2 separate regions of the Homo sapiens genome follow, and region 2 is linked to region 1. The links come from fine-mapping of genetic effects on gene expression. Tissue or cell type: fetal neocortex. Region 1 holds a variant in brackets; the other region holds the start of a gene. All regions are shown on one strand. Distances are between the middles of the regions.

Region 1 (8,260 bases):
AGTTGCCCTAGATTCCCCGAGGGGCACCCTCTGTGCCTCCCTAGTGTTCCTGCTGACAATAAGAGCCTTGTGCTGGGACCTGAGACACTAGAGGGGAAAACTCCATTCTCCCTGAAAGCCACAAGGCCCCATCTGGGACACATCTGGTGTCCACTCCCAGAAGGACCACAGAGCAGGGAAGCAAAATCTCTCCAGCTAGCAATGTTGTGGACCCTTTGCAAAGCCCACCTCCCAACCCCTCTGTGTCCCCAGGCCATGGAGAGCAAGCTCCTCATCGGGGGCAGGAACATCATGGATCACACCAACGAACAGCAGAAGATGTTGGAACTGAAGAGGCAGGAGATTGCCGAGCAGGTAGGGCCTCCAGGTGCCAGGTCCCCTTGGAGAGTGTGGCCTGCAGCTCATGTCTGGGAGGTGCAGGGCCGTAAACCATGGTGGACTCTGGATCTCTGGAATTACAGTGCTGAGAATCTCAGACATGCCACCCTGGGTCCCACAGGTCTACTAGCCCAGGGTCTTCCCTTTGGCAGGGGCACTGCTAGCTGGTGGGCGAGAGGACGTGATAGCTCTCCATAACATCAGCCTCCACAAGCCACCTGGTACTAATTCCTGGGCCTTCCACAAGGTGGTGTGAGTTCTTTGCCAACTGTATGACTGTTTCCCTAAATCATCAAGAGCCACAGTTTGTTGGTCTTACCAATCAACCATTATACTACTTGGGGAGAGGGTGAGGCAGCTTGGAAGGCAGTGTGATGTGCCTCCATCTGTGTGACTAACGCCTCTGGAGTAGGCCAGCTCTTAGGGGCTGGGGTCTCCATCCACATGGGGCAGAGCCTGGCAAAGGCATGGCCCTGGGAACTGAGAGGAGGGTTCCCAGGGGCTCTGCAGGATTGGGTGGGAGCAGTGGATGTGGGCCATGGGCCATGGTGAAGCCAGGTCCCGAGACAGGCAGAGTGAGCCAGTCCCCTGAGCTTTCCTGGCCCTCCCGAGTATGCACTGCTCCTTTGAGCCACACTGCCCGTCCTTGGCCTAGAAACGTCGTGAGCGGGAGATGCAGCAGGAGATGATGCTCCGGGACGAGGAGACTATGGAGCTCCGGGGCACCTACACATCCCTGCAGCAGGAGGTGGAGGTCAAAACCAAGAAACTCAAGAAGGTGAGACGCTGCAGCAGGACCGGTTAAGGTGTGCTGGAGGCCCAGCAGTCTCTGCCCAAGGGATGTGTGCTTCAGGGACTCCTCCCCATTTGGCTGGAACTGCTGAACCCCTGAGTGACATGGCTTGGCCTCGGGGGTGAGCAACAGGGGGAGGCAGGAGGCGGGGGCTGGGGGTGGAGTAGAGCCTTTTCTCCTGGGCCAGGGTGGGCTATGACAGGCTGCAAACTCTGTCACTTGCAGTATCCAGCGTTACCATCTTCATGGTCCTGGGTGATTACCCCGTTCAGTGTCACCAGTGAGTCACAGTTGGGATAGCTGGGCCTGGAGCAGGGCCAGGGGAATACAGAGAGGCTGAGGAGGAGACTGGAACCCCGGGAAGCTCAGGTGGGGAGTGTAAGGCCCTCAAGGACATGTCAAGGGATGAGAATAGCCGCTCACCAGAACCCTGCAAAGCCCGTGGCAAGGGAAAGACATGTACATGTGAGGGGGGTCTAGGGCAGGAAGCAGCAAAGCTCTAGCTTGGATTCTGGGAAAAACCTGGAGGCCCTTCGGGGTGGGTGATGTGGCTGCCCAGGGGCAGGCCTGGCAGAGGCACTGCCACTGTGGCAGTTACCACGGACCCAGCCCTCAGTGGCTTTGGAGAGGAGCAGGATGGCCATGCTACCTCCACACCCCACTTTTGAGAGCCCCTGAAGAGACTGGAGTGGGAGGGGTCACCTTCCAAACTCGTTCAGGCTTCCTGCTTCCTGAGCTGGGTCTCCAAATAAGCCCCGGGTCCTAGTTCCGGCTCTTCTATTGGCTGGTTGTGTGACCTTGAGCAAGTCTGTGCCTGGCTTCCTCATCTATGAAAGGAGGGTATTGGACCAAAAGGTCCCTGGGGTCCCCTCCCGTTTGAACATTCCACGATGCTGATAGCAGCTGAGAAAGAGCAGACAATGGTCACAGGCCTCAGTGAAGGAGGGCGGGGCACCACTTTAAATAGCCCAGCCCAATTCGTGGTGGGTTGGGCACAGCGGGGAGTTCAGAAAAGGACCCGCAGCCTCATCCTGGGCTGAGTCGGTAGACTCTGAGCCTGCAGCCCTGCGGCCCAGGCTGGGTGACTGGGGCCTCGTTGCCACACCAAGCAGCCTCTGAGTGGCACCTGTCCCCACCCAGCTCTACGCCAAGCTGCAGGCGGTGAAGGCGGAGATCCAGGACCAGCATGATGAGTATATCCGCGTGCGGCAGGACCTGGAGGAGGCGCAGAACGAGCAGACCCGCGAACTCAAGCTCAAGTAGGGCCCGCAGCTCTTTTCATCCCGGGTCCCCACAGCCAGCCATCATTACTCAGGCCTCTCCTCCCCTAAGGCCTCATCCTGACTGTCTCCTCTCCCATGAGTCCTTTAGGAATAAAATGCGTCTGAGGGCTGAGGGATGGGCCCACGTGCTGGAGTTTCTTCTACCTCCTCTGCCTGTATTTGATGAACCCCTCAAAATGGACGCTAGGTGCTGGCCAAAAGTAACTCCGAAGGCCCTGAGGCTACCATCTTTGCATAAGAATCAGTGATTTTAAATTTTTTAAAAATTATTTTTAGGGCCGGGCGCAGTGGCTCATGCCTGTAATCCCAGCACTTTGGGAGCCGAGGCAGGTGGATCACCTGAGGTCAGGAGTTTGAGACCAGCCTGATCAACATGGTGAAACCCCATCTCTACTAAAAATACAAAAATTAGCCGGGCATGGTGGCGCGCACTTGTAATCCCAGCTACTCAGGAGGCTGAGGCAGAATTGCTTGAACCTGGGAGGTGGAGGTGGCAGTGAGCCGAGATCATGCCACTGCAATCCAGCCTGGGCGACAGAGCGAGACAACGTCTCAAAAAAAAAAAAAAAACAAAAACAAAAAAGGCCGGGCGCAGTGGCTCATGCCTGTAATCCCAGCACTTTGGGAGGCTGAGGCAGGTGGATCACGAGGTCAGGAGATCGAGACTATCCTGGCTAACACGGAGAAACTCCGCCTCTACTAAAAATATAAAAAATTAGCCGAGAGTGGTGGCG[G/A]GCGCCTGTAGTCCCAGCTACTTGGGAGGCTGAGGCAGGAGAATGGTGTGAACCTGGGAGGCAGAGCTTGCAGTGAGCTGAGATGGAGCCACTGCACTCCAGCCTGGGCGACAGAGCAAGACTCTGTCTCAAAAAAAAAAATTATTTTTAAATTTGTTTTAAAAATTATTTTAAAAAATGTGTGTATATAGTAGTTGCATATATTAATATTGATGGGATACATTAGATTTTTTTTTTTTGGAGATGGAATATTGCTCTATCATCCACCCTGGAGTGCAGTGGTGCAGTCTTGGCTCACTGCAGCCTCCACCTCCCAAGTTCAAGCGGTCCTCCTGCCTCAGCCTCCTGAGTAGCTGGGACTACAGGCGCCCACCACCACACCTGACTAATGTTTGCATTTTTAGTAGAGATGGAGTTTCGCCATGTTGGCCAGGGTGGTCTCAAACTCCTGACCTCAGGTGATCCGTCCTCCTCGGCCTCCCAAAGGGCTGGGATTACAGGCATGAGCCACCTCGCCTGGCCACATGAGATGTTTTGATACAGGTGTGCAATGTGAACTAAGCACATCATGGAGAATGGGGTATCCATCCCCTCAAACATTTATCCTTCAAGTTACAATAATCCAGTTACACTCTTTAAGTTATTTTAAAATATACAATTTGCTGGCTTATACCTGTAATCCCAGCACTTTGGGAGGCTGAGGCAGGTGGATCACCTGAGGTCGGGAGTTTGAGACCAGCCTGGCCAACGTGGTGAAACCCCATCTCTACTAAAAATACAAAAATTAGCCAGGCATGGTGGCATGTGCCTGTAATCCCAGCTACTCAGGAGGCTGAGGCAGGAGAATCACTTGAACCCAGGAGGTGGAGGTTGCAGTGAGCTGAGATCGTGCCATTGCACTCCAGCCTGAGCAACAAGTGCAAAACTGTCTCAAAAAAAAAAAAATATATATATATATACACACACACACACACACACACACATATATATACAATTAAGTTATTGACTATAGTCACCCTATTGTGCTATCAAATAAAAGTATTTATTCATTTTTCTAATTTTGTGTACCTGTTAGAAGCAGTGATTTTTCAAGCTGCAGTATTTCTGTAGGGATCCTTTCCCCTTAACTTCTTGATTTTCCCCACCTCCACATTGCCTCTGCCTCTTTTTTTAAAATAAATAAATAATTAATTAACTTATTTTTTTTTGAGACGGAGTCTCACTCTGTCGCCCAGGCTGGAGTGCAGTGGTGTGATCTAAGCTTACTGCAAGCTCTGCCTCCCAGGTTCATGCCATTCTCCTGCCTCAGCCTCCTGAGTAGCTTGGGACTACAGGCACCCACCACCACGCCCAGCTAATTTTTTTTTGTATTTTTAGTAGAGACGGAAATGGTGTTTCACTGTGTTAGCCAGGATGGTCTTGATCTCCTGACCTCGTGATCCGCCCGCCTTGGTCTCCCAAAGTGCTGGGATTACAGGCGTGAGCCACCGTGCCCAGCCCCCTCTGCCTCTTGGCTTGTTGCTTCTAATCCTTCAACCCTCACATGCACCACGTGGTCTCTCGCTCACCCATTTTCCCATCACTCCTTCATTCCTGCTCCCAGGTACCTAATCATCGAGAACTTCATCCCGCCGGAGGAGAAGAACAAGATCATGAACCGGCTTTTCCTGGACTGTGAGGAGGAGCAGTGGAAGTTCCAGCCACTGGTGCCAGCCGGCGTGTGAGTCTCTAACCCAGCTGTCTGGGCTGGGGGACTTGTGGGTCCACTCCAGGTCGGGGCTGGTGAGGGGCCTGAGGCCTTGCCTGCAGGGAGACAGATGTTTTGTGGATTGGGGAAAAGATGGGGAGGATGCCGATGGGGGATGAATTTCTCAGGATCTAATTGTAGGGGTCTCTATGATGGAAGGGTGTTCTGGGAAAAAAAGTGTCTCATTGGCCTGGGATGCAGAAAATACCTTGTGAGGGATCTCGGGAGGGAGGAAGAGCATCTCAGCCTCTTGACAATCCTAGCGAATGCTAACATCTGGCCAGGTCTGGTGAATATTCATTTGTCAGATGCCCGAAATAGCAACCACAGTTAATATTTGCCAAGCGCTACTGTGTGCCGGATGCTGTGCAAGACTCAGGAGACAGAAGATAAATTAGACATGGTCCGAGCTCACAGTCCAGTGGGAAATAAGTAATCAGATCATGATGTGATAGAGCTGTGATCCAATCTCAGTGCGCTCGCTCATCCGGGTGATTTCAGCATTTCCACCTGTTTCCATGTCCTAGTCCTTGGGTGCAGCTGCGGCCATTGGCTGGGTGTGTGGCTCCCTCTGCTGGTGGCCATGAAGAACATCCCAACAGAGTGAGGCCTTGCCCGGCTGAACCATGGGCCCTTAATTGCAAATATATAGAGAGAGGTGCTTAGGAGGCTGGACACCAATGCACCTTCCTGGAGATTATTTGCTCTCTCTAGAATATTAATGTTAAAATAGGGCAAGAGTCTCCCTAAATCTGGGATGGGAAGCTAGCAAGAGGTCTACAGCTTCTCACTGAAGCATCAGATGCCTACTTGGTTATTTTTTTTTTCCTTTCTTCCTTTTCTTTTCTTCTTCTTTTTTTTTTTTTTAACAACTATAGCTTAGATGCCTATTTGATCTTTCTTAAAGGCTGATTTTACTTAAGGTGATACCACATAAGTTTGTAAGTGGCAAGCACGTGAATAGAGGACTTTTCAATGGTATTACTTTGCACCTACAATCCACCTTTCCAATCTAGGTAGAGATTCTCAATAGTACATCAGCTGTCATAGAGGTTTTCCACCCTGGCTGGAGCTAGAATACCTGCAGAGAGTCTGATTTAAAGGGTCCCAGGTCTTAGGTTTTGTGATTCTGCATTTGAAGCCAGGCTAGAAAACCACTGCTCCAATGACATTTGCTGGAGTTGGATGCTGGCGAGGCTTCACTCTGAAGGGTTATCTTATGCTTAGAAAAGTTCTTTCTAGCTGGGCGTGGTGGCTCAAGTCTGTAATCTCAGCACTTTGGGAGGCTGAGGCAGGTGGATGGCCTGAGGTCAGGAATTTGAGACCAGCCTGACCAACATAGTGAAACCCCATCTCTACTAAAAATACAAAAAAAAATTAGCTGGGCGTGGTGGCAGGCGCCTGTAATCCTAGCTACTAGGGAGGCTGAGGCAGGAGAATCTCTTGAACTCGGGAGGTGGAGGTTGCAGTGAGCCAAGATCACTCCATTGCGCTCCAGCCTGGGCAACAAGAGCAAGACTCCGTCTCAAAAAAAAAAAAGAAAAGAAAAGAAAAGGTCTTTCTGCTGGGCATGGTGGCTCATGCCTGTAATCCTGTAATCCCAGCATTTTGGGAGGCCGAGGCGGGTGGATCACTTGGCGTCAGGAGTTTGAGACCAGCCTGGCCAACGTGGTGAAACCCCGTCTCTACTAAAAATACAAAAAATTAGCCGGGTGTGGTGGCATGCACCTGCAGTCTCAGCTCCTGGGGAAGCTGAGGCAAGAGAATCACTTGAACCCAGGAGGCAGAGGTTGCAGTGAAACTTGCTCTTTCGCCCAGGCTGGAGTGCAGTGGTGTGATCTTGGCTCACTGCAACCTCCGCTTCCTGGGTTCAAACGATTCTCGAGCCTCAGCCTCCCCAGTAGCTGGGATTGCAGGTGCATGCTACCACGCCTGGCTAATTTTTTGTATTTTTAGTAGAGACGGGGTTTCACCATGTTGGCCAGGCTGGTCTTGAACTCCTGAGCTCAAGTGATCCACCTGCCTCAGCCTCCCAAAATGCTGGAATTATAGGCATGAGCCACTGCACCAGTCCTTAGAAAAGTTCTTGAGTTTAAAGTTTGCAGGTGAAGGAATTTCTTTACATTGGATGTAGTAGTGCCACCAATGTGCTCAACTAGTTGTGGGATGGGAGAGGCTTTGAGAAGGTGTGCATTAACTTTTGTTGTTGTTGTTGTTTGAGACAGGGTCTCACTCTGTCACCCTGGCTGGAGTGCAGTGGTGTAATCACAGCTCACTGCAACCTCAGCCTCCCCAGGCTCATGTGGTCCTCCTCCCAGCTAATTTTTTTTTCTTTTTTTTTGGTATTTTTTGTAGAGACAGGGTTTTGCCATGTTACCCAGGCTGATCTCGAGCTCCTGGGCTGAAGCGATCTGCCTGCCTTGTCCTCTCAAAGTTCTAGGATTACAGGCGTGAGCCACTGCGCCTGGCCACGTCAGCTTTTTATTTTGAAAACAAGAATTGCAAGAATAGTATAAAGAATTCTCGTATACCCTTCACCAGATTATTAACATTTTGCCATATCTTGCTTTAACTTTCCCCCAACCACTTGAGATTAAGTTGCAGACATTTTGACCTTTTACCTGTACTTCCGAAAAATGAGAACATTCGTGTTCCACAGTGCAATGATCAAACTCAGGAAATTTTGTATTGTCACAATATTATTATATAGGCAATATTAAAATTTGCCAATGTCCTTTATGATGATTTCCCTCCCTCCCCACCTGCAGTCATGCATTTCATTTAATTGTCATGACTCTTTGGTCTCCTTTAATGTGGAACTGAGAAGGGATTTTGACTTGAGTTTAGCAGTTTCTTGCTTCAGAGGAATTTATTCATTTCTCAAAACACTCTGCAATTTTGACTTGACTGCCTCAAGCACATGATCCAGACTCAAAGTGTGGCAGGTGCTTTACCTGAAGTTCGAATGAGCTTTCTGCATAATGATTATGAATTTCCTTCCCTCCCTCCCTCCCTCCCTTCATTCCTTCCCTTTCTTCTTTCTTTCCCTTCCTTCCTTCCTTCTTTCCTTCCTTTCTTTCTTTCTCTCTCTCTTTCTCTCTTTCTCTTTCTCTCTTTCTCTTTCTCTCTCTCTTTCTCTCTTTCTCTTTCTCTTTCTTTCTTTCTCTTTCTCCCTTTCTTTATTTTCTTCCTTACTTCCTTGCTTGCTTTCTTGCTTTCTTTTTTCTTGAGTCTCACTCTGTCACCCAGGCTGGAGTATATAACTCACTGCAGCTTCGGGCTCCTGGGCTCAAGTGATCCTCCTGCCTCAGCCTTCTGAGTAGCT
Region 2 (8,000 bases), 220 kb before region 1:
AAATGGAGTTGACAAGACTTTCTCATCAGGTTGCCATGAGGATGAAATGGCAAAAATGTTCGGCCCAGCATATGGCATGCAGCACATGCTTAACACATGGCAGATGTGGGATCCGGGGCTCACACGGGGACGTCTCTGGGATGGGGCCACCAGACTCCCATCCCTCCCACACAGGGGACAGCAACCACACGCTCCTGGTGTAGTGCAGCAGACACCAGCCCTCAGTTGAGATACCTGGATCTGGCCAGGCTCTTCCTTTCCTAGATGTGTGACACGGGGCAAGTCACCTCCTCCCCCAAGCCTTCCGTTTCATCATCTGTAAAAGGAAGGGGCTGTACTCTGTTTTGGTAACAGAATCCTTTCTTCAAACAAAATCTTATTATATGTCAACGTCACGTATAAAACTAATAAAGGTAGTCCATTAGCATAATCTTTAGAAGTCTAAAATTTTTAATATTCACTTATAAAGTCAACCAATGGAAACAATAGGTTTAACGCAAAAATTGGGAAAAACAGGATCAGCGCGGAGAGGTGCAGCCATGTAACCAGCTTGGGCATTCGCTGGTTTCTGCGGTATTTGGTTGCGCGGTACAGAAAAGGTCCTGGCAGGACATGTTCTCTTGGAGGGTCTGCACAAAGATGGCTAAGCGTGGCAGCCGAAGGTATACCCTGAAGGCCTCTGATTAGGGTTAAGCTCTGATGTGTAGTAATTTAAGAGTGTGGGTATTTTTTAATCATTAGTTTCAAATCTACTTTAAAATAAAATGTGAATCAAAAAACCTGTGAGCCACCTCTCCAGAAACCCAGAGTGCCACAGAACAGAATGAAAACTGCTGGGCTCTGACTCCAACCCTAACCCTAATCACCGCCTCGCTAGTCCCAGCGTTCCCCCTACCCCTGGCCCCAGTCCCTCCTGCCTACACCCCCCTACAGGCTTTATGACATCTGTCCTGGCTGGACACACCTGGGTACTGCAGGGGGATGTCGATCTTGGGCCCGATGACATAGTGGCCCTCCTCCAGGGTATGAGCTGTCACCGTTGTCCACTGCCGGCAGGAGTGGATGAGCAGGATGTCTCGCTCACTGACGCCCTCGGCGTACTCCCCTGGGAAGGGGGAGGAGGACAGAGGATGAGGGGAAGGAAGACAGGACATTAGAAGGGGCAGAAAGAACAGATAGTGACGTCCTCACCAAGACCGCCCCCCTGAGGGACAGCTCCACACAATCCCTGTCCAGGTCAGCAAAGCTCAAGGGACAGGCGGGCTGCCAGCTGGGGCCTGGGGCTGTGGGGCTGGCTGTGAGCCTCTCAGGGCTGTGACTCCCGACGGGGCCCCTCGTTCATCAGTGGCTGGAATGCCTGCTGTCCCTGGCTCTGAGCTGGAGCAGGGGGAGCTCCCCATGGATGAGCCCAGACCAGCCCCTGCCCTCCAGGAGCCCTTAGGCCCCTGGGGAGGTGGGCAGAGATGTACCAGAGACTAGGCAAGTTTGAGGCACTGACTGGAGTATGTCTGGGGACCCGGAGGGCAGCAGTAGGCTCCAGCTGGGGGTGTGGTGGCGAAGGGAGACTTTATTGAGCAGGAGATGCTGGAGCTGTGCTTCCCAGTCAGGGCCTAGGCCCTGCAAGAAGGGCCCTACTGGGGCAGTGGAGAGGGCCCGGACGGGACTGTCCCTTATAAGGTCCCAGCTGTGAGAGCTCCCCCAGAGCCACGGGTCGCTCAGGTCAGGAGAATGACAGGGCTTAGAGCAGCTGATTACTGCCTCTCCCAAGGGCAGCCCTTCCTTTCCACCCACTGCCTTGTTCAGGGGACCTCGAAGGAGAGGGGGGGAGTCCCCAGAAACCCCCAACCCCATCTCAGAGAAGCCACCCACTGCCTTGTCAAGGGGACCTCGAAGGAGAGGGGGGAGTCCCCAGAAACCCCCAACCCCATCTCAGAGAAGCAGCTCCTTGACACCCCCTCCCCACGCCCCCTCATCCTCCCAGTTACAGGGGTGACGGCTGAGGGTTGGAGGGGTTGAGAGAGCAGGTTTAGAAGGCAGGAGTGGGAGGCCCAGCCCTGGGGCCTGGGGGAAGCTGCTCTGGGGCAGAGGTGTTGGGAGTTGGGAGGGGTCTGGGCCTGGAGGCGCCAACCCCAGCAACGGTTTCCAGGGGAGCAGGAGGGGCAGCCCAGCTTCCAGGAGGCAGAAGGGGCTGTGTCCGGGCTGCAGCTGGTGGGGAGGGTGGGGGTAGGGAGTACCTCCTTCCTTTCTCCTTCAGGCACAACTTACAAAATTTCTGCCAATCAAATGGGAAATGGTTTACTCTGATGGCTGGGGGCTCCATAAAATGTGTACATGTGGGGTAGGCGTGTGTGTGTATGTGTGTGTGTGTGTGTGGCAGGGTGGCGGGCGGTTCAAGACGCACAGGAAGGGCCTGGCCCCCACTATGTGTGTGTTGGGGGTGTTGTCTAAGCTTTCCCCTGTACCTCCTCACCTCCGGGGGCCCAAGAAGCTCTCCTCCAACTCTGCTCCCTCCTCTGAGAGCTGTCCTGGGTCCTAGCCCCATCTTCACAGCCACATGGGCACACAGCAGTAATCATGGCTCATGACCACCAACAGCTGAACCACAATAGCCCACAGTGACAGATGCTTGTCACCCAAACAACATAACTCAGTCTCCGGCCAAGGGGCCCCTCCCAAATGCACAGGCACACAGGGACCTACCCTTCAAGCCATACAATTCTGACCAGACATTCACACCCTGATGGTGACCCAGCCATAGCCACACACTGTCACACACAACAGACAGCTGGGCCATCACACCAGTTGTTCATTCACTCACCCATTCATTCAATCCATAATCTTTATTGGGCAAGGATGCCTGGTCTCAAGGAGCCCACAGCCAGGTCTAAAGACAATAAACTGACTGACCATTATAATGGGGTGCACAGTAGGAGACAAGCCAGAGTTGGCATGAGGTGGCCGGGGAGCCCAAAGGAGGCCCTACGCAGACCGAGGAGCTCAGAAAAGCTGCCCAGAAAGGGGAGATGCCAAAAAGGATGTGTGGGAAGTGGCCAGAAGACCCCAGGGCAGCGACCTCCATTCACAGGCAGACACAGTACCACACTCTGACCACTCGGCCGCGAGCCAGAGAACTAGACGCTGGCCTGCCCGACGGCGGGGCGCCGATGCTCCCCCATGAGCCTGCTCCCGGGACAGCTGACGCCCACTGTGCCCACTCCTGGCCGCCACGGAGGAGGGGCTGCCGGGCCCCACGGGGAGACGAGGAGCCTGCGGCCGCGGGCCCCATTAGCATTCATGGAAGCGAGTGTGCCAACGCGGGCCAAACCCCTATTCTTCTCACACACAAAACCCCCGGCCTGGCTGCCAGCCCCGGCTACCGCCCATCCCCCAACCAAGCAGCACCCCCCTCCCCCCAAACGGTCCCCTCGCTCCATGCAGCCTCCGGGCGTACCCTCTCGGGCCCCCATGCGTGGTTCCATCAGCCGAGCGGCTGGGGGCCCCAGGTCCTATTAAGAAGTGGGACAAGATTCGGGGGAGGGCCGGGAGTTTGGGGGTCACGCCGGGCAGCAGACCCGGCTCCCGCCGGCCTCTCCCGAAGGTGGCCTGCCCGCCCCAGGACCGAGGCTGCTCCTAGGGAAGAGAAAGGAGGTGCAAGAAGGGTCCCCAGAGGGGCGGAGCAGGACTAGGGGTGGCGGTAAGGGGAAGACAGAGTCCGGGTCCCAGGGATGAGGGAAGACAGAGGTGAGAGGCCAGGGACAAAGGGACCAAGGGGGCGCGGCCGGGGCGGGGGGCCCAGGGGCAGCGGGGGAAAGGGGGGCAACCGACGGGGCGGGAGCAGGGGCTCGGCCCCTTTCCGGACTCCAGCTGGGCGGGAAAACTCTGTCCCGGGCCCTGTCCCCGGTGTCTGTGCCTGTGCTTGTCCGCGGGGCCCAGGAGGCGGACCTGGCGGGTGGGCCCCGCGTCTCCCGGGAGGCGCGCCAGGAACCGCTCGGGGCCCACGCCGGGGAGCTGGGAGGGTGCGGGTGCCGCACCCTCCTCACGATCCCTCTGGCCCCTGGCTGGAGAGCCCACCATTTCCCCGCGGACCCCGGTCCCCATCTCCAGCGACCCCGGTACCTGGCCCAAGGCAGGCGAGCGTGGGCAGGCGGCAGCGGCTGACGATGAGGTCGAGCGGGAAGGCGCCCATGCTCCAGCGCAGGCCGGCCAGCCCGGCCGCCAGCTTCTCCATGGCATGGGCGCCCCGGGGCCGCCGTCCCGGGGCCCCGACGGTCAGTCCCGCGCGGCCCAGGCTCTCGCGCCCGCCGCCACCTCCCGGGGCCGCCGCGGCGCTCGCCGCCTGGCAGCCCCGCCGGGCCGCGGGCGTCACGTGGCCGGCCTCCCCGCAGGGCGCCGACCCCGGCCCCGCCCCCGGGCCCCGCCCCCTCCTCCCGGACCCCGGCCCCCTCCTCCCGGACCCCCGCCCCCTGCTCTGTCCGCCCCGACCCGGACTCGCCGCCGGACCCACCCCCGGACCTCCGCCCCCAGCCCTGTCCGCCCTGCCCCGCCCCGGCCCCCTCTCCTCGGACCCCGTCCCCGCGCCCCCTTCTGGGACCCCGGGTCCCCAGCCCCGCGCTCCGTCCGCCCGCCCCTGCCCCCGCTCCCCGGCCCCCACCCGCCGCTGCCGCCAAGCCCCGCCTCCCCTCCCGCCAGCTTCCCCGCGCCCAGGTGACGGCGGGTGATGGAGGACCCCAGGGCGGGCGCCTGGAGGGACAACGAAGTCCCGAGCGGCATCTGCGGAGTCGGCGCGGGGTCGGCCTCCTCCTTCTGGCTGGGTGTGTCCGGGCCCCGCCGCTCCCCCTCGTGCTGGCCTCCCGGAGGCCGCGCCCACCCGCGCCCTGTCCTGCTCCGCCGCCCAAAGCTCGGGTTCTGAATTCTGCTCTTCCAGGACCTTCATCACCTCCGGCTCCGTGGAGCTGGGCGAGGCAGCCTCCTTAACCCCATTTTACTGATGAGCAAACTGAGGGGCAGAGGTCAGGTGGCAGCCAGGACTTCAACCTAGGTTGGACTTCAACCCAGATTTGACTCCAACCCTACTGCCCAAGAGCACCCTACAGCGCCCCACCATAGAGCACCTTCCACGTTCCCAGCGCCCCCTTAGCCGATAGCCCTGTGTCATGTAAACCGGCGCTCCAACCCTTCCACAGCACGCGGTGTGGACTGCGTCCATTCTGCAGATGAGGAGGCCGAGGTTCGAGGGCGTAACCGGTGCTGCGGTCTCCTCTCGGATCATTACAAGAACCGCCTTCCTCCCCCACCGCCACCATCCCTTCTCTCTTTTCCTTCTCTTTTTTTGAGACTGGGTCTCACTCTATCACCCAGCCTGGAGTGCAGTGGCGCGATCTCGGCTCACTGCAACCCCCACCTCCCGGGCTCAAGCGATCCTCCCACCTCAGCCTGCGGAGTAGCTGGGATGACAGGCACCTGCCACCACTCCTGGCTAATTTTTTTGTATTTTTAGTAGAGACGGCGTTTCACCATGTTGGCCAGGCTGGTCTTGAACTCCTGACCTCAAGCGATCCTCCCGACTCGGCCTCCCAAAGTGCTGGACTTACAGGCGTAAGCCACCGCGCCCAGCCTTCGTTCCCTTCTTTTAATTTGCGTTTCCTTTTCTGCTGTCCTCACCTCTTCCTTCCAAGCCCCCTGGACTCCAGCTCGGGGCCTCCCTTTGGGACCCCCTTCCCAGAAGCTTAGATGGCCTCGGCCTCGGCCTCGCCCTCTCTGTGTCTGCGGCGCCCTCTGCAGGTAATTGGGGGATGATGCGGGCCTGGCTGATCTCGCGGAGCCAGCGGGCCTTAGTCCCTAGGCTGCTCCCTCACGGGAGTGTAGTGGCACGATCTCGGCTCACTGCAACCTCCGCCCCGCAGGTTCAAGCAATTCTCCTGCCTCAGCTTCCTGAGTAGCTGGAATTACATATGTAGCTGGGATTACAGACAAGCACCACCATGCCCGGCTAATTTTTCACCTGGCTAATTTTTGTATTTTTAGTAGAGACAGGGTTTCGCCATGTTGGCCAGGCTGGTCTCGAACTCCGAACTCAAGTGATCCACCCGCCTCGATCCATCAGTCCTCAGCCTCGGTACCCCCGGAAGAACCCCACCAAATACAAACAAAACCCTCTCTTCTGAGGTGACTGACACCTGGCATCTTATGGCTCGAACCCCATGAGAAATGGCAGCCGACAAGATGAACACCACTTCTCAGCGAGAAGAGACGTTTTAGATCAGTGGTTCAATCCTCAACTGCTGCAGAGGAAAAAACTGAGACTCCAAGAGCAGAAATGCTTTGCTCTAAGGTCACACGGCAAGAAAGAGGCAGCGCTGCGACCAGAAGGCAGGACCCCCACCTACCAACTTGACCGAGGCCCTTCCCCAGCCTGGCCCAAACCCAGCCCGCTCACCCTGGCCAGGGAGGAGCTGCTCACCCCGGTGACTCAGGCAGCCCAGATGGACTCCGCTCTCCTGAGTCTGTAGGGGTGGGGTGGGTTCTTTCCCAGGGAAGTGGGAAGGTGAAGCCTGGCAGGAGAAGAAAAGAAAATACAGTGAAAATATAGGAGTCTTAAGAAGGGAATGGGCCAGGCGCGGTGGCTCACACCTGTAATCTCAACAGTTTGGCAGGCCAAGGCAGGTGGATCACTTGAGGTCAGGAGTTCGAGACCAGCCTGGCCAACATGGTGAAACCCTGTCTCTACTAAAAATACAAAAATTATCCAGGCAAAAAATTAGCCGGGCATGGTGGTGCTTGTCTGCCACTCCAGGTACATCTGTAATCCCAGCTACTCAGGAAGCTGAGGCAGGAGAATTGCTTGAACCTGGGAGGCGGAGGTTGCAGTGAGCCGAGATCGTGCCACTACACTCCAGCCTGGGTGACAGAGCGAAACTCCATCTCAAAAAAAAAAAAAAAGAAAAGAAGGGAATGGAAGGTCTGAGACAGGAGGGCGAAAAGGCCGGAAGAAGCAAGTGAATGAGAAGGGTGCTGCCTTAGATTCACTTTTCTTCCCCTACCCTGTAGGGTCTCTCTTTAGGGTGACCGTGTGTCATCCTAACTGGGAGACTTTTAAGAGGGAAGCCGGTACTAACCACCTCCCCACCCAGCTAGGACAACAGGTGCAGGTAGCCTGGGCTCCAGACAGCAGGTATAAACTGGCATTGAGCCACGTGGTCACCTTCTCCCTGCGCCCTGGACAGAGACGCCACATCTACGGTGGCTTCTCTTACTCAGCATGGCCGGCTCTCCTCAGCTCCCGACCTCAACTTCCAGCTCTACCCCTTCGCCCCCAAAAGGCGTTCACAGCCACTTCCATTTCCACAATCACACTTGAACCGGGTCCCCTTTTATTTTCTATCCCAGCTGAGGACATCTCCTTTACCCTGGTCTCCCAACCTGGAAATCTTCTCCCTAACCTTTATACCAAACTAGTCACCAAGTGCTGGCAATTCCTCTTCCACCAGGTGTCATGGAGCCCCAGCCTCCTCTTCCCAGGAGCTCCAGTCCCAGCCAGGCTTTCGTTCACAGTTTGGATCTTCTCTCCCCCAGGCAACCTGCCTATTTCACACCCAAAACCTATAACCCTGGATTTCGGCTGAGTTAGGGGCAACACCGCTGTGAGACACCAGGCAGATTCACCTAACTAAATGGACCCACCTCCTCACTGTTGCAGAATATTCCAGAGCCTTTCCAGGGCTTCTTAACTGTTGTCAAGTCTCCAGGGACCTGACACAAGTGTCCAGACACATACATCACTTGATTTGCTGAGGCTCAGGAGTCCTGCAGGAAGGAACTCAGCTTCTCTTGGAGGCAGAAATGTTTAGATCTTTCCTTGGACTGAGATTGCAGGAAGGAGAGCCAAGAGGGCACCAAGAGGGAGGAAGATGCTGGGCAGAGAGGCCAGGCTGTGTGGCTTGGTGTGGCCGTGGGAGAATCTGGGGCCTAGGTGCTGTGTGTGGCTGGGCCTGTGCTTCCCG

Which allele goes with the higher level. Alleles are on the strand shown, and positions count from the first base shown. SD is a standard deviation of normalised expression in the study named.
For the expression in fetal neocortex of the gene that starts at base 4,361 in region 2, allele G in region 1 goes with a higher level than allele A (small effect, 0.31 SD a copy in Walker 2019).

What was found. PIP is the estimated chance that this variant, and not a neighbour inherited with it, causes the effect.
Region 2: it holds the start of GAREM2, and the variant in region 1 is fine-mapped to the expression of GAREM2 in fetal neocortex (Walker 2019, PIP 0.95).

What each region holds. Positions count from the first base shown.
Region 1 is chr2:25,948,437-25,956,696 of GRCh38, reverse strand. KIF3C (kinesin family member 3C) reads left to right here. Exons shown (of 8, transcript NM_002254.8): 2 at 253-354; 3 at 1,034-1,156; 4 at 2,312-2,430; 5 at 4,792-4,908. Among named protein-coding and RNA genes, the nearest start is that of KIF3C, 30 kb to the left of the region's middle. The variant G/A (reference allele first, on the strand shown) is at 3,189.
Region 2 is chr2:26,169,449-26,177,448 of GRCh38, reverse strand. It overlaps GAREM2 (GRB2 associated regulator of MAPK1 subtype 2), which reads right to left and starts at 4,361. Exons shown (of 6, transcript NM_001168241.2): 1 at 4,117-4,361; 2 at 965-1,105. The coding sequence starts at 4,228. RefSeq lists an enhancer at 1,361-1,899.